Regions from separate parts of the Homo sapiens genome. Here region 1 is linked to region 2. Evidence: fine-mapped expression QTL. A gene starts in region 2. The other region holds a variant in brackets. All regions are shown on one strand. Distances are from middle to middle.

Evidence for each region. PIP is the estimated chance that this variant, and not a neighbour inherited with it, causes the effect.
Region 1: its variant is fine-mapped to the expression of EDDM13 in blood mononuclear cells (TOPMed, PIP above 0.99). The same link has a PIP of 0.9 or more in whole blood.

Annotation. Positions count from the first base shown.
Region 1 is chr19:56,297,773-56,309,532 of GRCh38, forward strand. All of the region lies in intron 2 of ZSCAN5A (zinc finger and SCAN domain containing 5A), which reads right to left. It overlaps EDDM13 (epididymal protein 13), which reads left to right. Exons shown (of 15, transcript NM_001354658.2): 13 at 4,196-4,323; 14 at 7,021-7,058. It overlaps LOC124900420, which reads left to right. Exons shown (of 5, transcript XM_047439799.1): 5 at 1-11,760. The coding sequence starts at 8,469. The coding sequence ends at 9,587. Among named protein-coding and RNA genes, the nearest start is that of ZSCAN5A-AS1, 11 kb to the right of the region's middle. The variant G/C (reference allele first, on the strand shown) is at 4,379.
Region 2 is chr19:56,266,806-56,278,565 of GRCh38, forward strand. EDDM13 (epididymal protein 13) reads left to right here and starts at 5,943. Exons shown (of 15, transcript NM_001354658.2): 1 at 5,943-6,114; 2 at 9,287-9,304. The coding sequence starts at 6,030. All of the region lies in intron 2 of ZSCAN5A (zinc finger and SCAN domain containing 5A), which reads right to left. LOC124900420 reads left to right here and starts at 5,943. Exons shown (of 5, transcript XM_047439799.1): 1 at 5,943-11,760.

The sequences.
Region 1 (11,760 bases), 31 kb after region 2:
CAGCTGCTGCTTCTGTGGACTGTGAGTCCTCTCTTCCCGACATGGAAATTACCAAGCTAAGTCCTGGGTGATAGGACTGAGGGCCGGAAAACCAGAAAATAGCAGCAAGCCACCAAGTGATCCAGATGGTGGAGATGAGCGTTTTAAAGTAGGCAGAGCCGGGCATGGTGGCAGCACCTGTGGTCCCAGCTACCCGGGAGGCTGAGGCAGGAGGATTATTTGAGCTGGGGAGGTGGAGGCTGCAGTGAGCCGTGATTGTGCCACCGCATCCGGCCTGGGTAACTGAGCAAGTCTCAAAAAAAAAAAAAAAAGCCAGAACAACACTAATGGTTGGTTCTTTTGAAAAGCGTAATACAAATTTAATCCTCTAGCATTACTGACAAGAAAAAATAGAGGAGAAACAAACTGCCAATATTTGGAAGGAAGAAGAGAGTATCATAGCAGATCTTGCAGGTAACAAAATAACAATAAGGTGATCATTGGAGAAACTTTATGCCAATAAAATTGAAAGTTTAGATAAAACGGACAAAATCCCAAAAAAACACAAATTACCAAAAACAAATGAAATGATATAAAAAATCTGGGCTGGGCGCGGTGGCTCACATCTGTAATCCCAGCATTCTGGGAGGCCGAGGCAGGCGGATCACAAGGTCAGGAGATTGAGACCATCCCACCCAACATGATGAAACCCCGTCTGGTGAAACCCCGTCTCTACTAAAAATACAAAAAAATTAGCCAGGCGTGGTGGCGGGTGCCTGTAGTCCCAGCTACTCGGGAGGCTGAGGCAGGAGAATCACTTGAACCTGGGAGGCGGAAGCTGCAGTGAGCTGAGATCGTGCCACTGTACTCCAGACTGGCAACAGAGCAAGACTCCATCTCAAAAAAAAAAAAAAAATCTGAATAATCCTCTATCTATTAAAGAAATGCCACCTGTAATTAAATAGCCTTACCACACACAAAAAAGTCTTTCAGGATCAAGTTAGCTTTAATAGTGAATTAAAAGGAAGAAATCACATTGATCTTACAGGAAATCTTCCAGAAAATTAAAAACAGTCATTTCCCAACTCGGTTTTAGGACAGAATAACCTTGATAAAAGATCTGACAAATACGACAAAGGAAAATTTCAGGCCAATCTTCCTCATAAATATAGATGGAAAATCCTAGACTAAATATTAGCAAGTGCAATTTGGCAATACATGTTAAACAATCATGACTAAATTCACTTTATTCCAGCAATGCGACAATGGTTTAATAGGTAAAAACAAATATATGGTATTCCCACCTTATTAACATAAAAGAAAACAAGCACATTATCATTTCAGTAGATACAGAAAAAGAATATGGTAAGATTTTACAGCTTACATTATTTTTTTTTTGAGACACGGTCTAGCTTTGTTGCCCAGGCTGGAGTGCAGTGGTATGATCACGGCTCACCACAGCCCTAAACTCCTAGGCTCAAGTGATCCTCCCCTCTACAGCCTCTGAGTAGCTGGGACCACAGGCACGAGACACCACACCCAGCTAATTTATTAAATTTTTTGTAGAGTTTGGGTCTCCCTATGTTGCCCAGGCTGGTCTCAAATTCCTGGGCCCAAGTGAGCCTCCCGCCTCAGATTCCCAAAGTGCTGGAATTACAGACATAAGCCACCATGCCCAGCCTTGTTCATGATTAAAAAAAAAAAAAATCTCAGCTAGCTAGGAGTAGAGAGAACAGCTTAATATAATAAGGAATAGCCACCAAAAACTTACAAAGAACAAGCTGTTTAAGGTAAAACACAGTTGTCCCTCAGTATCCTCAGGGGTTGGGTCCAGGACCTCCCCGCAGATAGCAAAATTCCTTGATGTTCAAGTCCGTGATATAAATAGCATAATGCTTGCATTTAACCTATGAACAGCCTCCTGCACACTTTAAATCATCTCTAGATTACTTATAATACAATGTAAATGCTCCTTAGTTATTGTACTGTTATATTTTTGTATTGTTTTTATTGTTGTATTGCTATTTTTATTGGGATTTTAAAAAGTATTTTTGACCAGTTTTTGGCTGGGTCCTCAGATGCAGAGTCCAGCGACACAGAGGGCTGAGGGTGTAGAACATGTTCCCTCTGAGATCACAGATGAGACGTTCTTGCTATCACCACTTGCATTTCACATTGGACTGAACGTTCTATCCAGTGCAAATCCTAGCCAGGCAAGAGAAAGGTAATAATAGGCAAAAGGATTGTGAAGAAAGAAAGATGAGCCTCATTTTTTATAGATGTGATTGTGTACCTTTGATTGGGAGGGTATATCTGAGAGGCTTGGGATATGCTGGTGTTGGTGAAATATAATTAAAAACAAAATATCCTCCAAACCCAGAGCTCTTCTCCACCCAGGTAGAAGAGAAAGAAAATAGTTTTATTAATGGGTAAGCATTAAACCAGAACATGATATGCGAAGAGACTGCAAAGACAGAAAAAAAAAATTTCACCCTTTTATATAGCCAAGCAGATACAACTTATTACATACCTGCTCTCAAGATAAACAACAGCTAGTCCTCAAGTTAAAGAACTTGACAGCTCTATTTGCTGTACATGGTTCACCGTAAATTCACTTGGTTATTGGGATAGCCAACTGTGTTTGTTAATTGGCTTAATCCAAGGGAAAAATAAACTTCTAGTATCTTTATCACAGGAGGTAGATTTGCTACTTGGGGTGAGGTGCCCACCAAAGTTAGGCTCCATCCCCTCCCAACAAGAAGCTGGGGAAGATGTTTCGAGGTCCTTGAAAACACCCTCCTGGGTCATAATGCTGGCCGCAGGCTTACTTAGCTTTGAAAAAGATTAGTGTAAACGTTGAAGAGAGAGAGACTTGCAATGGCAAAATTTTCTAAAGTAAATGCTCTAAGCAAAGGGGACAAGGAGTAATCGCTTCCTGAATTTTCAACAGGGAGAATTCATTTTTTTTCGTTTTCGATTTGCATTTGCCTGTACACTGGTAATGTTTTATTTTTTGATTGGAAACCTGTTTAGACAGACAGGTTTACGTGTAAAAAAAAAATGAGATTTTCTGAATGTAATACTTTTAAAATAAAAAGACAAGGGAAAAATGTTACACAGGCGAAAGAAACACTCTTGCACCTCATGAGGTTTGACATAAGAAAGCGACACGGTCGGATCTGGTGCTAGAAAGATCCTGCTGGCACTCATGTGGGAGATGGATGAGAAAGAGAAAGGATGGCGTAGTGGGCAGAGGCAGCCATCAAGAGCAGAGCCTGAAGCCTGGGGATGGGGGAGAGGTGGTGGTTTTGTTACCAGAAAGGGGTCCCGATCAAGACCCCCAGAGAGGGTTCTTGAATCTCGTGCAAGAAAGAATTTGAGGCAAGTCCATAAAGTGAAAGCAAGTTTATTAAGAAAGTAAAGGAATAAAAGACTGGCTACTCCATAGGCAGAGCAGCAGCAAGGACTGCTGGACTGAGTCTCCTTATAGTTATTTCCTGAATATATGATAAACAAGGGGTGGATTATTTATGAGTTTTCCAGGGAAGGAGTGGAGATTTCCTGGAGCTGAGGGTGCCTCCCCTTTTTAGGCCAGTAGGGGAACTTCCTGAAGTTGCCATGCCATCTGTGAACTGTCATGGTACTGGTGGGCGTGTCTCTTAGCCTGCTAATGCATTATAATTAGTATATAATGAGCAGTGAGGACCACCAGAGGTCACTTGAATCGCTATCTTGGTTTCGGTGGGTTTTGGCAGCTTCTTTACCGCAACCTGTTTTATCAGCAGGGTCTTTGCGACTTGTATCTTGTGCCAACCTCCTATTGTCATCCTGTGACTAAGAATGCCTTAACCTACTGGGAATGTAGCCCAGTAGGGCTCAGCCTCATTTTACCCAGCCCCTATTCAAGACGGAGTCACTCTGGTTCAAACCCCTCTGACAGTTTGGTGAGAAATCTGGGCAAGACAGGGTCAGATTTGGTGATGTCTTGGATGTGAGGTGGGAGAGCCAAAAGGCATTCCTGACTGTTTGTCTGGAGTATGGTGGTAACCAAGAAGGGGGAAGCTGGCAGTGATGGTGGGTGTGGACCAAAATTTCAATTCAGGAGGCAGGCAGAGATGTGAGTTTGGAGATCAGAATGGAGAGACAGCAGTGACAGGAAGCTCTAAGGCAGGAAGGGAAGGCCATCAGCATCAATCATCTCCACGGTTCTCTCCAGTTAAACCCTTCTCAGGCACCACCCCATCCAGGAAACCACTCCCCAAGAGGAAGAACACGTGGAACTTCCTGAAATGCGCCTACATGGTGATGACCTACCTCTTCGTATCCTACAACAAAGGGGACTGGGTAAGAAGAAGGCAGCACGGAGGGGAGGAGTGTGAGGAGAGGAAGGAAAGAGGAG[G/C]GAAGTGGGGGCACAGAGGAAGCGAAGGAGGGTGCCTCAGAGGTGCCAAGCAGGAAGTGGTGGGAGAGCCCTTCTGTAAAACACTCTCTTCTTCCCACTCTCCCACCCGCCTCCATCTCTCATTTCATTCTTCCTTCCTCTCTCCTTCTTCCCTCTTTTCTCCCTCCCTCCCTCCCCTTCCTCCTTCCCTTTCCTCTTCCTTTTTTCTTCCCTCCCTTACTTCCTCCTTCTCTCTCCTCCCTCCCTATTCTTTCCTCCTCCCTTCATCCCTCCCTTTCTCCCTTCCTTCCTTTCTTCCTCTCTCCGTCTGCTTCCTCCCTCCCTTCTTCCTTCCCATCCTTCTTCCCTCTCTGCCCTTCTTTCCTTCCTCCCTCCCTCCCTCTTCTTCCTCCCCGTTCCTCCCTCCCTCCCCCCTTCCTTTTCTTCCTCCCCCTTTTCTTCCTCTCCCTCTTCTTCCTCTCCCTCTTCCTCCCTCCCTCCTCCTCCCTTCCTTTTCTTCCCCCCCTCCCTGTTCTTTCCTTCCTCCTTCCCTCCTTCTCTCTCCTTCCTTCTCTTTCCTTCTTCCCTCCCTCCCACCTCTAGACTGGGATAAAACTTCTCCCTTCTGCACTAACACAGCCCCAGGGGCTCCTTTGAAATACTGTCACTCATTCTGCCTCTCTCTCTGCCGCTGTCTCTTGTTCTTTCTAAGGGACGTTCATAAGGACCAAGCCTGTTGCTGGTTGCTGGGGACTCTGATGGTTGAGCTACCTTCAAGAAGGTCCTAATTCTGTAAGGGAGGCAGACATCCACAGAGAGAACCAGATCACCGAGTGGTAGCACTTCATGAGCAGGTGCTAGTGCAGGAGGCAGTGGCGCTTATCTCAGCCTAGGGGAAGTGTGGGCTCATGGAAGCCTTTCTGCAGGAGGTGACACCTCTGCTGTGGGTTAAGGACAGAATGGAATTAGCCAATTGAGGAGGGGAAGCAGGGGAAGCATTCCAGAGAAACACCATGTGCGAGACTCAGAGAGGTGAAAATAAGGCAGGGTGCAAGAAACTACAAGCCAGGCCGGGCACGGTGGCTCACGCTTGTCATCGCAGCACTGTGGGAGGCTGAGGCGGCTGGATCACGAGGTCAGGAGTTCAAGACCAGCCTGGTCAACATGGTGAAACCCCGTCTCTACTAAAAATACAAAAAATAGCCGGGCATGGTGGCGCATGCCTGTAATCCCAGCTGCTCGGGAGGCTGAGGCAGGAGAATCACTTGAACCTGGGAAGCAGAGGTTGCAGTGAGCCAAGATCACACCAGCCTGGGTGACAGAGTGAGACTCTGTCTCAAAAAATTAAAGTAAATAGAAAAAAAAAGAAGGAAAGGAAGGAAAGGAGGGAGGGAGGGAGGGAGGCAAGACGGAAGGGAAGGAGGGATGGAAGGAAGGACAAGTCATCCTTCATTCATTGATTCAGTCAGTCTTCAAATATTCACGTGTGTAGAGGACCCATCCTAGATGCTGGGGACTCAGAGAAGAACGGAACCCATAAGGTCCTTGAGTCCCCAGGGCTCCCATGTTTGGGATAGCAGGAGGACTGCAGAGAAACAAGCAGCCAGCTCCAAAAAACATGAACTAAATCAGGGTGATATCACAGAGTGAGCAGCCATGGCCACGGGCAGCCTTCCCCGGGCAGGTAACGTCTGGACATAAGAGATGAGACAGTGGAAGGATCTTGCCTTCAGAGCAGCTTGGGGGCAACCACTGCAAGCAAAGCAGGCATGCACAGCAGACCCTGAGGCAGGAACACACTGAGTACCTTCGAGGAACCAAAGGAACATCTATGTGACCTGAGAGGGGCAGGGGGGTCCAGGTCATGTAAGGTTCTCATAGACCACGAGAAGGAAGCTTGTGTTCTAAGCTAGTGGACAGCCGCCAGCAAGATCCCTTCTGAGTTATCAAAGGATCCTTCTCAATGCTGCCTGTGGAGAGTGGATCGGAATCAGGGCGAGAGTGGGAGCAGACAGACTGAGAGGAGGAGACACACTGAGAGGAGGCCCGACCAGCCAGCGCAGGGGACCTGGCGGTGCTCATGGAGATGAGAGCCGTGCAGCAGTTCTAAAGGAACTGCTTATGCGCTGGGTGTGAGGAATAAGGAAAATGGAGAGACCAGGGAGATGAGCCTGAGACAGTGACTTCAGTTATGCTAGTGGTTCTGAAACGGGGGTGACGTTGCCACCCAGGAGACACTCAGCAGTGTCTGGACCACAGGATTGGTTGTGACAGCTGGAGGAGGGAGCTCGACTGGCATCCAGTGGGCAGAGGCCAGGGAGGCCACTCAACCTGCCATACGGCCCAGGACAACACGCCACGACAAAAATAACCCAGGTCAAAACGTCAGGAACCTGAGGCTGAGAAACCCCAGCTTAGGGGATTGTGCTGCTTATGGGGATGAGGAGAACTGGCTGGAAGATGGGGAAGAAGGTGGGAGTGGTGAGAGGCGGGCTGAATAGAGAAGCAAGACCAGAAGATGTTACAACCAGAGGGAAAGAGCAGAGGGGGAGGACGGGAAAGAAGCGAGAGGGGGATGGGGAGAAAGGGAGGTAAGGAAGGAATTCACTCGCCTCACCCCAACTGTTTCTTTCTCTGTTCCCAGTTCACTTTTTCCTCCCAAGTGTTACTGCCACTACTGTAACTTGGAACTGGACATCAGGTATGCTATGGCAGGGAAGTGGGCTTTTCCCACCGCTGGGGTGGGGTTAGGGGAGGTTCATCCCAACTGCCTGGCATTTGAGGTAAGGAACACAGGTGGATTTGGAAGCTGCAATCATAGAAACCCAGAATTCCATGAGAAGTCCCAAGTTCGTCACCCTTACTTGCAAGCCACTGCCTGACAGGGGCAAGGAAACACATTGTAAATGACAGGGATGTGCCGGGCAGGAGGAACTCCTTTATAAATTCACTCTATAATTTTTTCACAAGTCTTAGGACTTGTGGCCCAACACACACGACATAAAATTAACCATTAGTGACATTCAGTACACTCAAAATATTGTGTGGCCATCACCACTAATCTGTTTCCAGAATCTTCTCATCATCCTAAAAGGGAACTCTGTACCAAGACATCGTCTCTTCCCCCTGTTCCTGGCAACCACTAGTCTACTCTCTGTCTCTGAGAACTCACCTACTCTGGTCATTTCATACACATGGAATCATACACTACGTGGCCCTTTGCATCTGGGTTTATTCATTTGGCATAATATTTCCAAGGTTCATCATGGTATACCTTGTATCAGGACTGTATTCGTTTCTGCTGGATAACACTCCACGGCATGGACATAGCACACTTTGTTTATCCATCATCAGGTAAAGTGCACTGGGTTGCTCCCACCTTTTGACTGTTGTGAGTCGTGGTGCTATGAACAAGTTATGTTAGAATATCTGTTTTAAAATCTTTTGGGGTACAAACTAGGAGTGGAATTGCTAGGTCATATGATAATTCTGTGTTTATAACGACCCACTGATGCATCCTGGATGCAGTAGTGAACGGGGCAGACAAGATTCCTGAGCTCACAAGAAAACAATTAGATGATTACAGGTGATACTTAGAGCTAGAGGAAAAGCTGAGGATATGATGAAAAAGAGAACTAAAGAACCTTGCCCTGGATAGTTGGGTGATGAAGGAAAGCCTCTTTAGGAAAGTGACAATGAATCAAAGGCCTGTAGAATGAGGGGTTGTCAGATACACAGAAAACAAGTGAAAGAGCCTCCAGGTGAAGGAACTGGCTTGTACGAAGGCCCTGGGGTGGAAAGTGGCCTAGATGTGCCTGGAGTCAGAAAGAAAAATGGGGGCAGGAGAAGGGGGAGGGAGTGGGAGGGCACTATGGGAGGAGTGTGGGTGACATGCTCAGCAGACCACCTCAGACCTGGAAGATTAGAGCAAGCATTTTAGACCCAACCTTCAGAGCCATGGGAAGCCACGGAAAGGCTGTCAGTGAGAAAGAGACACGTCCCAGTGACATGAAGTGTAGAGGCCAGTTAAGAGGCTACTCAGTTTCCACGAGATGACGGTAGCCTGGTCAAGGCTAGGGTCCAGGGTACGGAGAGAAAGTACGAAAGACAGATGGGAGGTTTCTCTTCCCTCGATAGCTGCAAAGAGGGTCCCCCTGGCCTCTCCCGCATCGCCAGAGAAAGTACTAAGGACAGATGGGAGATTTCTCTTCCCTTGATAGCTACAAAGAGGCTCCTCCCTGGCCTCTCCCACGTCGCCAGAGAAAGTACTAAGGACAGATGGGAGACTTCTCTTCCCTCGGTATCTGCAAAGAGGGTCCCCCCCGGCCTCTCCCCTGTTGCCAGAGAAAGTACTAAGGACAGATGGGAGATTTCTCTTCCCTTGATAGCTACAAAGAGGCTCCTCCCTGGCTTCTCCCACGTCGCCAGAGAAAGTACTAAGGACAGATGGGAGATTTCTCTTCCCTTGATAGCTACAAAGAGGCTCCTCCCTGGCCTCTCCCACGTCGCCAGAGAAAGTACTAAGGACAGATGGGAGACTTCTCTTCCCTCGGTATCTGCAAAGAGGGTCCCCCCCGGCCTCTCCCCTGTTGCCAGAGAAAGTACTAAGGACAGATGGGAGATTTCTCTTCCCTTGATAGCTACAAAGAGGCTCCTCCCTGGCTTCTCCCACGTCGCCAGAGAAAGTACTAAGGACAGATGGGAGATTTCTCTTCCCTTGATAGCTACAAAGAGGCTCCTCCCTGGCCTCTCCCACGTCGCCAGAGAAAGTACTAAGGACAGATGGGAGACTTCTCTTCCCTTGATAGCTACAAAGAGGCTCCTCCCTGGCCTCTCCCACGTCGCCAGAGAAAGTACTAAGGACAGATGGGAGACTTCTCTTCCCTCGGTATCTGCAAAGAGGGTCCCCCCCGGCCTCTCCCCTGTTGCCAGAGAAAGTACTAAGGACAGATGGGAGATTTCTCTTCCCTTGATAGCTACAAAGAGGCTCCTCCCTGGCCTCTCCCACGTCGCCAGAGAAAGTACTAAGGACAGATGGGAGATTTCTCTTCCCTTGATAGCTACAAAGAGGCTCCTCCCTGGCCTCTCCCACGTCGCCTGCCTTTCATCCTCTCCCTGGCATCCCCAGTGCCCTTTTTACATTAAAAAATGTCAACTCGATCATACGATATACCCCCACCCCCTGCTGCAGTCCTGCTTAAATCCACCAGTGGAAACTCACCAACTATGATGAGTGTCTTTCAAACTTTAAAAGAAAGAAAATCCAAAACACTTTTCTACTGAAATCTTACATGGAATCCCAATATATAAAAAATTCTAAGTTGCTTTTCATTACCAGAGGTACTTTTCCTAAGGTTAACTGTGTGACATTTACTTATTATGAAGTGAGGTGATGAGATTTGCAAGCACAGGGTACAGAAGGCCTCTGCTGTCTTACGTTACTCTCTTTTACCCCGTATCTTGCAGTGTTTCCTTTTAATTGTTCATACGGAGAAAAATCTGAGCCCACAGAGATAAGTCACTGCAAATGCCTAATAGTTTGCCTTGTGAAGTGTACATGCCCTTCAGGTAATACAATTTTTTCCCCAAGGTCTGTATGTAAAACATGCAACAGGTTGGTGTGGCTCTCCAGTGAATAAAAATTTCAGTCCATGTGCTATATTTTGGGTACACACCTATTTTAAAAAATAGTTTAATTTTTGAAATGAAAATCAAAGCAAACCTTTGTGGAATTCCTAAAAGATCCCAAGTTTTCAGGGAACCTGGCAGGAAGCCTCTGCCCCATTGATCAAGTTCAGGTCTCTGGCATGGTACCCAAGGGTTCTCAGGCTCCAAGCTCCTCCTGCTTCTCTAAACTTTTCTCCACTTCTCTTGATCCCCCCACCCACATTCCATCCCCTGTCCATATTAAACCTTTTTTTTTGAGACAGGGTCTCGCTCTGTCGCCAGGCTGGAGCGCAGTGGCGCAATCTTGGCTCACTGCAACCTCCGCCTCCCGGGTTCAAGCAATTCTCCTGCCTCAGCCTCCCAAGTAGCTGGGACTACAGGCGAGTGCCACCACGCCCAGCTAAGTTTTGTACTTTTAGTAGAGACGGGGTTTCACCATGTTGGCCAGGATGGTCTCGATCTCTTGACCTTGTGATCCGCCCGCCTCGGCCTCCCAAAGTGCTGGGATTACAGGCGTGAGCGGTGGCTCCCAGTCTTTTTTTTTTGAGATGGAGGCTCACTCTGTCACCCAGGCTGGAGAACAGTGGCCCAATCTCAGCTCACTGCAACCTCTGCCTCCCAGGTTCAAACGATTCTCCTGCCTCAGACTCCCAAGTAGCTGGGATTACAGGCATGCACCACCACACCTGGCTAATTTTTGTATTTTTAGTAGAGATGAAGTTTCACCATGTTGTCCAGGCTGGTCTCGAACTCCTGACCTCAGGTGACCCACCCACCTCGGCCTCCCAAAGTGCTGGGATTACAGGCATGAGCCACCACGCCCCCCCATATTAAATCATTTCTGATTCCCCCCAAAACATCACATTTTTTTTCCCGCTCCATTATGCCATTGCACACATTGATTCCTTGATCTCTGTCTACCTAGAAAAGTCCTCCTCAGTCCTCAAGATTCACCTAAGCAATGCTTTGGTTCAGGAACCAACAGCAATCCTTCAGATTCCACTGGGGAGGATGCTGAAGGAAATGAATGGTGTTGAACGGTTTCTCAGGCTCTCTTCAACCATACATTAAAGCACCGGTCAAACCAGATAGTTATTTTCATATAAAGGTGTGCTTTCAACCCATTAGGCAAGAGGTTGGCAAACTTTCTCTGTGAAGGGCCAAATATTACGTGTTGGCTTTTCAGGTCATATGGTCTGTTGCAACTACTCTAGTCAAAGCAATCGTAGAGAATACACTGATGGCTGTGACTGTACCCAACAACTGATGAAAGGATAAACAAAACGTAGTGCATTCATACAATGGATTATTATTCAGCCCCCAAAAGAGGAATGGGGTCCTGGCACGTGCAACAACACGGCTGAACCTTGAAAACACTGTGCTGAGTGAAAGAAGCAGACACAAAAGATCACACAGTAGATGATGCCATGTATATGAAACAGACAGATCTGGCAAATTCAAAGAGACAGAAGGCCAATTACTAGTTGTCAGGGGCTGAGGGGAGGAAGGAACAAGGGGAGTGACTGCTTTTAATGGATTTCTTTTTTGGGTTGATGAAAATGTTCCACTCTTAGAAGTGACAATTGCACAACATGGCGAATGTAATGAAGGCCACTAAATTGTGCCCTTTCAAAATGGTTAAAATGGTGAATTTTATGTTATGCATTATGTTTGCATTTTACCTCAATTACAAAAAGAAACTTTATTAAAAGGGATGCAGGCTGCAGTTGGCCCTG
Region 2 (11,760 bases):
AAGTGGGTGTAAGAGGGCCCAGGGAAAGCAGACAAAGAGGAATGTTCCTGGTTTGTGCTTACTATCATTCTCACGGCGGAGCCCACTCAGGTTTGTTGACAATCTGGCCCCTGCCTACCACTCTAACCTCTCCTCCCTCCACATTCCCATGAGCTTACCCTGCTCCATCCACAATGATCTTCTTTCTGCGTGTCAAATTCCTTCTGCTTTTTTCTGCCTCGGGGTCTTTGCACAAGCTGTTCCCTCTGTCTAAGCTACTCTTACCCCAGATCTTCATTAGGATCTAAACTCAAATGTGACCATCTCAGTGAGGTCTCTCCTGACAACTCTAGCTACGGCAGCATCTCAACCCCATCGGTCTCTAACACATGGCCCTATTTCAGTTTCTTTGCAGCAATGACCAGTACATGAAATTATATATGTGTTTGTCAATATTGTTGTTTGTCTTCCTACACCAGACTATAAACTCCACAGGGTTAGAGAAAGTGCATCCCCAACACCGAGACTGCTTGGTTCACAGAGGGTGCTTTTACACATATGGCTCTGTCAGAACTGTCATAGCAACCCTGTTAGGTATATAGTCTATTAAGGCTGAGAGGCGCTTAGTATCATGATTTAGAGCAGCACTGTCCAATATATGTAGCTATTTAGATTTACCACGTAGCTATTTAGATTTACATGCTTCATAATGAAATAAAATGAAAACTTCATTTCCTTAGTTGCATTAGCGTCACCTCAAGTGCTCAGCAGCCGCACGTGGCTAGTGGCCACCATTCTGGGTAGCACGGATACAGGACATTCCTATCACTGCAGAAAGTTCTACTGGACAGGGCTGGTTTAGAGCATTCACTGCAGATTCATATACTTAGCTTCGAATCCCAGTCCTGCCAATTACTAGTGGTGTGATTCTGAGTGGACCTTATGCTTTTAGATCTCACTTTTTTCATCTATAAAATGACGCTAATAACAGTTCCCATCTCATAGTGTTGTAGGAGTTATTATAGGCAAAGGCTCTTAGAAGAGCATCTGGGATGTAGTCAGTGCTAGAAAAAGTATCGACTGTTGCTATGACACCTCCATTTTTACTCCCTGAGAAACTGAGGTCCAAAGAAAAGAAATCCTTGTCCTAGTGCACACAGCCAGGAGGTGGAGGGAGCTGAGGTTTGATCCCGCACCTCTATGATTTCAGAGCCTGGCTAAATCCGATGACACTTTTCAGGTCCCTTCTGGGAAAAATCCCTGAAACTTCTGACCCATTGCTCCCTTATCTGTTTAGTGGGGGACAGAAGACTCCAAGGGCTCCTCTATCTAGGATAGATGTGAAGGAACTGACTGGAGAGCCAGCCAGAGCCCAGGACATGGGTTGTCTATTCTAGGACCTAGTCAGTGGCTTGGGACTCCTTGGGGGTTGGGAAGCCAGGCTGCCCAGGACACAGAAGCATTGGTGTGGCTGAGCCAGTCATGCCAGCTGCAGCCGAGACCCCTTGTGTGGGCGCTGCCCCTGTGGGTGTAATGGCCCCTGCGGCAGGGACAGAATGCTCATCCCTCCCACCTGCTCAAGCTCTGGGACTGCCCCAGGAACTGTACAGAGGGGTTGAACTATTTCCACTTGTTTCCCTGTAGAAGCCTCAGATGCTGCTGCTGCTGCTGCTGGTTTAATTTTTAAATTTAGTTACTTTTAATACTTTTTAAATTTAGTTACTTTTAATATGCACAGTCCCTATGCTTGTACTGTTTTCTTTGTTTTGTTTTGGTAACATGGGATTTTTAATTGCTATTTTTAGAGCTTTTAACACATTTTTCTACATTTAAAACTTTTTTAATTGAGGTAAAATTCATATGATATAAAATTAACCATTTTAAGTGTACAATTCAGTGGCCTTTAGTGCATTCTCGATGTTGTTCAACCGTCACCCACATCTAGTTTTAAAACACTTTCCTTACCCCTCACCCCATCTCACTAAGCAGCCATTCCTCTTTCCCTCCCCATTCCTAGTCCCCGACAACCACTATCTACTTTCTGTCTCTAAGGATTTACTTGTTCTGGATATTACGTATCAATGGAATCATACACTAGGTAGTCTTTTGTGTCTGGCTGCTTTTACTTTGCATAATATTTTCAAGGTTCACCCATGTTCTAGCATGTATCAGTACTTGATTTCTTTTTACAGTTGAATAATATCCTATTATATGGCTATACCACACTTTACCCATTAATCTATTGATGGACATTCGAATCATTTCCATATTTTGACTCTAGTGAATAGTGTCGCTGTGAACATTCGTGTGTGAATATTTGTGTAATTACCTGTTTTCCGTGCTTTCGGGTACATACCTAGGAGTGGACTTTCAGGGTTATACGGTAGCCCTATATTTAACTTTTTGAGAAACTGCCAAACTATCTTCTACAGGGGCTATACCAATTTACATTTCCACCAGCAATGTATAAGAGCTCCAATTTCTCCACATCCCCTCAATATACTTTAAAACATTCACAATTATATGGCATAATAATATAATAATTAATGATAATAATTGTTGCTATCATTAATAGGAGGAAACCGAGGCTCAGGGATATAGTCAATTGAGCAAGTTTATGCATCTGTGAGGCAGGCAGAATAATTGTCCCTGAAGATACCCACATCTGACTCCTGGAACCTGGGAGTGTGTTACTCTCAGATGTGATAAAAATAAGACTGTTAATCAGCTGACCTTGTGGGGAGATTATCCTGGATTACTGGGGTAGGTCCAATGTAATCACAAAGGATCTTGTAAGTGAAAGAGGGAGGGAAATGGGTAACAGAGGGAGACGGAATGATGAAAACAGAGAATCAGAGCAATGTACGGTGAGAAAGACTTGACCGGCCATCGCTGGCCTGAAAATGGGAGAGGGTTGGAGAGAGATTTGAAGACGCCATGCTGTTGGTTAGGAAGATGAAAGAGGCCGACCAGGAGTCAGGAATGTGGGCAGCCTGTAGAAGCTGCAGAAGGCAAGGAAACAAATTCCTCCTAGAGCCGGCAGAAGGAATGTAGCTTTACCAAGGCTTTTCACTCTATCAACCCATTTCAGACTTCTCAATTCCAGAACTGTATGATAATAAATCTATGTCGTCTTAAGTCACAAATTTTATGGTAATTTGTTATGGTAGCAAGAAGAAACTCAGGCCAGCCGTAGTGTGGTGGGGCAGGGATTGGCATCCACACTGGATTGACTCAATGTCTGTGATTCTAACTGATTGGCTGTCTGTGACTATAACAACCAGGTTTTTTGCCGTCTCCAGGTCCAGCACCACTTCCCTGCTCCACATAGACATGAGTGGATCTCACAAACATCACGCTGGGTGAAAAAAAAAAAAAAGATCCCAGCACTATGGGAGGCCGAGGTGGGTGGATCACGAGGTCAGGAGTTCGAGACCAGCCTGGCCAACATGGTGAAACCCTGTCTCTACTAAAAATACAAAAATTAGCCAGGTGTGGTGGCGCACGCCTGTAATCCCAGCTACTCAGGAGGCTGAGGCAGGAGAATCGTTTGAACCCAGGAGGCGGAGGCTTGCAGTGAGTTGAAATCGTGCCATTGCAATCCAGCCTGGGCGACAGGGTGAGACCCCGTCTCAATAAATAAATAAATAAATACATACATAGCTAGCAAGTTGTGCAAGAAAGATTCAGTGAAACACCATTTAGAATAAATGTAAAAACACACAAAATAATATTACATACGTGTACTGGAGCCAGCTTATGAGGGTCAATTGTTAACGTTTTCAGTTTTCTACATTTAAAACATTTTTAAATTGAGGTAAAATTCCTCATTTTAGCTGCTTGCCTAACATAGCCCAATACTCAAAACTAAATTGTATAAACTTGAACATAAATAAGTTATAATAAAAATAGAGTAATAAGCACTAAAAGCTCATCACTTCCTAGTTGTGGCTCCCCAAACATGGTGGCGGTGGTGGTTGGTGTGGGGTGGGTGGGGCAGGTGCTACTGTGTAATTGATAGGGACCAGAGATGTTGCTAAATATCCCACAAAGCGGAAGACAGCCCCCACCACAAAAACGATCTAGTCCTAAATGTCAGCTGTGCCAATGGTGAGAAATCCTGATCTTCCCTAAAGCATGAGTTCCTCATGAGCAAGGCCAGTATCTGACTCATCTCTGTCCCCAGATCACAGTCTGGCAGAGCAGATAATGCTAAAGAATATTAATGATGTTCTACATCCCAGGCATTTGTTGCATTTAAACCCTAGTGTTATGAGTTAGGGACTGTGATTATATTTGATAAAGCAAAGAAACAGCTGTGCTGGTAATGAGGCTGCTAAGGAAGGATGGAAAATCGAAACGTAGGACTAATCAGAGAAATCCAAATATGCTCCCCCAACCAATCACAATGGCCTCTAATTAACCACTGCCAGCTTCCTTATGCCAACGGCCTCCAACCAGGCACTCTTGAAGCCTTCCCTTTCTTTCACTATAAGCTTTCCCACTACCCTGCCTGCCTTTGAGTCTGTGCCAAACACAAATGGTGTCAGTGGCCTCCCTTATTACAGCAAGCTCTGAATTAATAGCCTTTGCTTGTTTTCATTGGGTGGTCTTTACTTCCGCATAGCACCGGATGTGAAAAGCCTTCCACATGTTTTACGCCTTGTTTCTTCTGCTCATTATAACAAATCCTGTAGTATCACGTTTTCCCGGTGATGAGTTGCCAGGACCATGTGCTCACAAAGGAGGGGAGCTCTGAAATATGGCAAATGGCCAACAAGAACTCTCTCCTCCAGCCTAGTCTGAAGGATCGCTGAGGTATCCCCTAATGTACATGAGATGGTCCAGCTTGTACTAGGGATTGAAACATAGATAGCACCAGAGATGGCGGCAGGAGAGAGTCCCCTGCAAGAGTGGACATCCCTCCACACCTGGAACTCTTTCCTTCCAGGACACTACACACAACCCTCTGTTTCTATCAGGCTTGAAGGAAGTACCATAGAAACCTTCAGAGCTTAGATAGACCAGTGGTCTCTACACTCTGCCTTTATTCCAGGAGTCCAGAGGGATACTGGGTCAAGTTCATATTCCCACTGACAGCTAAAGTTCTTGACTGTCAAAGCAATTTCTAAGAATTACCAGTGGAAACAGTTAGTTCCCTGTGGCTGCTATGAAAAATTATTACAAACTTAATGGCTACAACAGTACAAATTTACTATCATACAGGTGTGATATGATAGTATCACATTAGCCTGGAAATATCATTATCCCAACTTTATAGATCAAGAAAATGAAGCACAGAGTGGTTAAGTAACTTGCTCAGGGTACATAGCTAGTAAGTGCTAGAGGTAAGTATAAACGTAGACATCTTTGGAAAGGAATATACACAAAAATGTAAAAACAATACTTACTTCTGAGTAGAAATACGATAGATGTTGTTTGCTTGCTTTGTTGTTTTTCTGAAATTTACAGTACGTCTAGGACAGGGGTCCACAAACGTTTTCTATAAAGGGCCGGACAGTAAATATTTTAGGCCTTTTGGCCCAGATGGTCTCTGTCACAACTACAAAGCTCAGTCTTGCAGCCTGAAAGCTGCTGTAGACAATACATAGTGAAATGGCATGGCTGTGTTCCAATAACACTTTATTCATGGACACTGAAATTCACATTCTATATAATCTTCATGTCATGAAATATTTTCTTTTGTTTTTTCCCTCCAACCATTAAAAAAGGTAACAATTACTCTTAGCTCATAGGCCCTACAAAAACAGGAGGAGGGCAGGATTTGGCCAGCAGATCATAGGATGACAAGCATCACACTCAGCATGAAACTGTTCTAAAATGTTGCTTTAAGATGAAAAAGCAGATACAGTTCTTTGGTCAGCAGTTGGTGGCGTGGGCACAGGTCTGGAGACCTGCCAGCCTCCAGGCAGGCTAGAGGGCAGGTGTGGGCAGTTAGTTTTGTCCCTGGAGCCTGGGAAGACGGTGGGTGACCAGAGAGTCCTGTCTATCCTAGGAGGAGAACATTCAGCCCAAATCCCAGCCCCATCATGCACAGATCAGAGCCATTTCTGAAAATGTCGCTGCTGATTCTGCTTTTCCTGGGATTGGCAGAAGCCTGTACTCCTCGTGAAGGTAATGCTTCCAGCCATGCCTTGTGTCCTCTATGTATTTTCTTACAACTTGGGAGGCTCTTGTGGGCTGGATTCAGAGAGAAGCTCCTGAAGTCTAACAGACTTCTTCTTGCTTCCCATTTAGACATTCACATTTCCCTTGATGGACACAGTGGGGTGAATGAGTCTAGGTTGCTAGCCCCTGCCCTTGGAGATACACTTGTGTCTGCATCCTGGTTTCTATCACTGATTCTGTGACTTTGGGGAGACACTGCGTCTGCAAACCTTGCTGTCCTCATCTGACCAACGGGGCTCACAAGAATCCCCAGTTCATGGGACTGTTGCATGTCATTGACGAGCTTACGTTGTGCAGTGCCTGGAAGTCAACATTACCATAGTTAGATAATTCTAGTGAGACTCCAGACTTTTGCGACGTAAAGACACCAAAGAGTATATTGGGAAGAGGACTTGGGTCTTGCCATAACTCTGAGTTCCCATTTCCTCATTCGATCCACAAATGTTTATTCCTGGTTCTTTCCACGGGCTTGATGCTGGGAATATAGTGATGAAAATAGTTCTGTCTTCATGGAATTCTCATGCTAAACACACACATTCTAGTGTGGGGATTCGGAGATGGCCTCTCTAGAAAAGTCACATTTGAGGTAAGGAATAGGAGCTGGCCAGCTGAAGAGTTAGGAGAGACTATTCCAGGCAGAGACTTGAATATGCAAAGGTCCTGGGGCAGAAGGCACTGAGTCCCTCCATCAGAGAGAGGCCGGTGTGTCAGGAACGTGGTAGGCAGAAGGAGGGGCATGGTGGTGAGACTGTTACAAGTAAGAAGAGACAGGAGGCAGGAAACAGAACAGACGGGGGCATGTGAGTCACAGGAAAAATGTTGGATGTTATCCTCAGGGAAAAGGAAGCTGTGAAAGGGTTTTCAGCAAAGGAGTGTCATATTTAGGAGCGTGTGTGTGCATGTATGTGTGTTTCTGTGTGTTTAAACAATGTGTCTTGCCCTCAGGAAAGAATGGATTAGGTGGGAATCAGATTAGGGGCAAACACACAAGTTAGAAAACGTTTTGGTCATCAGGGTGAAGATGGGGATAAGTAGAAGGTTACGAGGCACTGAGGAAACAGCTCACAGGATTGAGTGATGGGTCAGATGCTGGTGGTTGGGGATAGAGAAGCATGCAGAAAGGCTCTCTTTATACATACATGTATTTGCAACTGGGGAATTGAGGCTGCCCTTAACTGAGATGAGAAAACTCTGTAGAGGTCGGGCGCGGTGGCTCACACCTGTAATCCCAGCACTTTGGGAAGCCAAGGCAGCTGGATTATTTGAGGTCAGAAGCTCAAGACCAGCCTGGCCAACATGGCGAAACCCCATCTCTACTAAAAATACAAAAATTATCCAGGCATGGTAGTAGGGGCCTGTAATCCCAGCTACTCAGGAAGCTGAGGCAGGAAAATCGCTTGAACTCAGGAGGTGGAGGTTGCAGTGAGCCGAGATCCTGCCATTGCACTCCAGCCTGGGAAACAGAGCAAGACTCTGTTTCAAAAAGAAAAAAAGAAAAAAAAAAAAACTCTGTAGAGGAACACGTTTTTTAAAAAATTTATTTTGAAATTATTTTAGACTTGAGGAAAAGTCACAAAAATTAAGTTTCTGAATATTCTTCACCCAGTTATCTCAGCTGTTAACATCTTACCTAACCATAGCACAATGACTAAAAGCAAGACCCAACACCAGAACAAAACTATTAAAGAAATTACAGACCTCATTCAAATTTTACTAATGTTTCTACTAATAGAAAAACTATTCTATTTGAGGATCCAATCCAGGATCCCACCTTGTATTTTCAATTAAGTTTTTTGTTTTGTTTTGTTTTGTTTTGTTTCAGAAAATCCAGCTCTTGCTCAACCATGTTGCATTTTGTTATCCCATCTCCTTTGGTCTTGTGATTTGTCCTTAGGATGTGTGATTGAACCTCCTCAATCTTTGTCTTTCACGACCCTGAAACATTTGAAGAGCTCTGATCAGTTGTTTTGCAGAATTTCTCTCAATTTGGGTTTGTCTGAAGCTTTCTCATGATTGGATTGAGACTATGCATTTAGGGCAGGAATACCACAGAAGTGGTCTCACACCCTTCCCCGGGAATTATATCAGGGACCACATGATGTTGATGTGTCTTATTACCCATGGTGTAAACTTTAGTCCCTCGGCTAAGGTGGTGTCTGCCAGGTTTCTCCACTGTTAAGTTACTATTTTCCCCCTTTGTAATTAATAAATACGCTGGGGGAGAAATTTTGAGGCTATGCGAATACCCTGTTCTCCTCCAATTTTTGCCCATTAATTTTAGCATCCATCTGTGGATCTTGCTGCAGAAATGATTGCTACAGTGCTTCTCCAATGGTGATTTTCTATTCCCCTTATTCATCTACATATATTCAATGGCCTTTCTCTGTAAGGAAAAGCTGACTTTTCTTCTCCATTTATTTATTCAAGTACTGTATTTATTTATATCAGCGTGAACTCAGGGATATTTATCGTATTGGTTGGGTGCAGTGGCTCAAGCCTTTAATCCCAGCACTTCGGGAGGCCAACGCAAGAGGATCACTTGAGGCCAGGAGTTTGAGACCAGCCTGGGCAACATAGTGAGACTCATCTCTACAAAAAATAGTAAGAATAAATAAAAAGTATTGCATTAACAGATTATTTTTTGATGGATAGGAGTGTGATGACCACAGATTCTTTTTTGAACAGGCTAAGCTTGAAGCACCTGTAAGATGTTTGGGACATCCATAGATAGCAAGTTCTGTGAGAACAGAGTTTGGGGTGTCTAGTGTACTCTTATACCAGAACTTCTCTTCCCAATCAGCCTTGCAAATACCTACAGAGCAGGGGCTGAATCTGATTTATCTGCGTCTCCAACACCAAACATGGGCCAATGCCCAGAGCATGTACCATGTGAATGTTGGTTGGATGGATGATGAACGAATGGACTTATCGATGGATGGATGGGCTGATAGATGGGCCCGAGTAGCTTTATTGATAGCAGTGAGTGGGTCAGCTGATCTCCAGGGACACTTCTATCTCTGGTCTTCTTGGTTATTGCACTGATCTGAGTCTAATGCTAATTTCTCTCTCTGCTCCCTGCTCCCGTTGTGAACTGGCTGGCTGATGCTTTTGTCTCCAGTTGCAACTAAAGAAAAAAGTAAGAACCGTGGAACCCCCAAGTCTGTATTTTCATAGCTACCTCTCCTAAAATTCTTTTCGATCTTGCAACCTCTCTGGCAATTCTGGGGAAGGGTGGCACTTGGATCTGGTGCACAGACCTGCCATGGGGTCTGGACATGACTCAGAAAAGCAAACCTATTGTTTGCTTACAGTGATGCTCACAACTAAAAGAGCAGCCCTCCTTCACTCCTTTGTCTGGGGAAGAGAGGCCTATTCGGAAAATGAAGAGCATTTATCAGGGAAGAGAGACTTCGGGCAGATCTCCATTAGAATAACACCTTGGCTTATGTTTAACACCAGCTGGTGGTTTGCAAACTTCATGGTCTTAGGGCCACTGAACACGCGAAAAAAATTATTAAGGATCTAAAGAGCTCTTTTTTTTTTTTTCCAGTGAGGGTTATTTTTATTTATTTATTTATTTTTGAGACGAGCCTCGCTCTGTCGCCCAGGCTGGAGTGTAGTGGTGCGATCTGGGTTCACTGCAACCTCTGCCTCCTGGGTTCAAGCGATTCTCCTGCCTCAGCCTCCCGAGTAGCTGGGACTACAGGCTGCGCGCCACCATGCCCGGCTAATTTTGTATTTTCAGTATAGACGGGGTTTCACCATGTTGGTCAGGCTGGTCTCGAACTCCTGACCTCAGGTGATCCGCCCACCTCGGCCTCCCAAAGTGCTGGGATTACAGGTGTGAGCCACTGTGCCCGGCCAAAGGTTATCTTTATTGATATTTACCTTATTGTAAATTCAAGGATTTTTAACTTAAAAATATTTATATTTACAAATATTATAAATATTTACAAATACAAATACTTATATTTACAAAAACTATTTCTATTTACAAATAAGCACATAAAAAGATGCTCAACCTCATTAGCCATCAGAAAAATGGAAGCCAAAGCCACAGTGAGGTATCACTTCACACTAACTAACGTGGAGAAATCAGAACCCTCATATGCTGCTGGTGGGAATGTGAAATGATACAGCTGCTTTGGAAAACAGTCTGGCTGTTCCTCAAAATGTTAAACACTGAGTTACTCAGCAATTCCGCTCTAGGTATGTGCCCAAGATAAATGAAACGTAAGTCCACACAAAAACCCATGCACAAATGTTCACAGCAGCACTATTCCTAAGAGCTAGCAAGTGAAGGTAATCCTAGCATGCATCCATTAATGAATGGAGAAACAGAGTGTGGTCTATGCATACAATGGAATATTATTCACCCATAAAAAGAAACAAAGTTCTGATGCATTCAACATCGTGTGTGAGCCTTGAAAACATTATTCTCAGTGAAAGATGCCAGTGATAAAAGATCACATATTACCTGATTCCGTTTACCGTATATGAAATATTCAGGATAGGCAAATCCATAGAGACACAATGGACATTAGTGATTTCCAGGGGGTGAGGGGTGGGGGAATTTAGAGACAATGACTAAGGGGTTCAGGGTTTATTTTGGGGTGATTAAAGCCTCTAAAACTGGTGTAGTGATGGTCGTACAAGTCTGAGTATCCTACAAACCACTGAAATGGGTGAATTGCATGGTATGTGAATTATATCTCAGTAAAGCTATTATTCAAATATCTATTACTGCATTAAAAAAATAAGGATAATAGAGACTCAGAAGGAAGGAGGGTGGCAGGGAGGTGAGGGATGAAAACTACCTTTTGGGTACAATGTACATTACAAAGATGCTGGTGCACTAAAATCCTAGACTTCACCACTGCACAATTCATCCATGTCACCAAAAACCACTTGTACCCCTAAAGCTACTGAAATTAAAAATATTTGAAAAATAAGGATAATAAATATACATACTGACATAAATAAAATGTTTTAGTGAAATGGCTGTTTCCAAACCAAAAAAGTTTAGTAAGAAAGGTATTATTTTACATTTTTGCAAATCTCTTTGATGTCTAGTTTAATAGAAAACAGCTGAATTCTCATTTCTGCTTCAGTCTGTCACAATGTGCTATTTTTTTTTTTTTTAGCTTTATGTGTTTGTTTATTTTGGAGACGTAGTCTTGCTCTGTCGCCCAGGCTGGAATACAGTGGCACGGTCTCGGCTCGCCATGACATCTGCCTCCTGGGTTCAAGCAATTATCTTGCCTCAGCATCCGAAGTAGCCTCCCAAGTAGCTGGGACTATAGGTGCATGCCACCATGCCTGGCTAATTTTTGTATATTTAGGAGAGACAAGGTTTCACCATGTTGGCCAGGCTGGTTTTGAACTCCTGACCTCAAGTGATCTGCCCACCTCGGTCTCCCAAAGTGCTGGGATTACAGGCGTGAGCCGCCCCGCCCAGCCACAATGTGCTATTTTGGTTGAAGCAAATGAAAATCTAATCTCACACAGATAAGGAGTTGGAAAAGGGAAGATCATGCAGACCCGTTTTAGGCAGAGTTCTCCAGAGAGACAGAACCATGAAGATATACATAT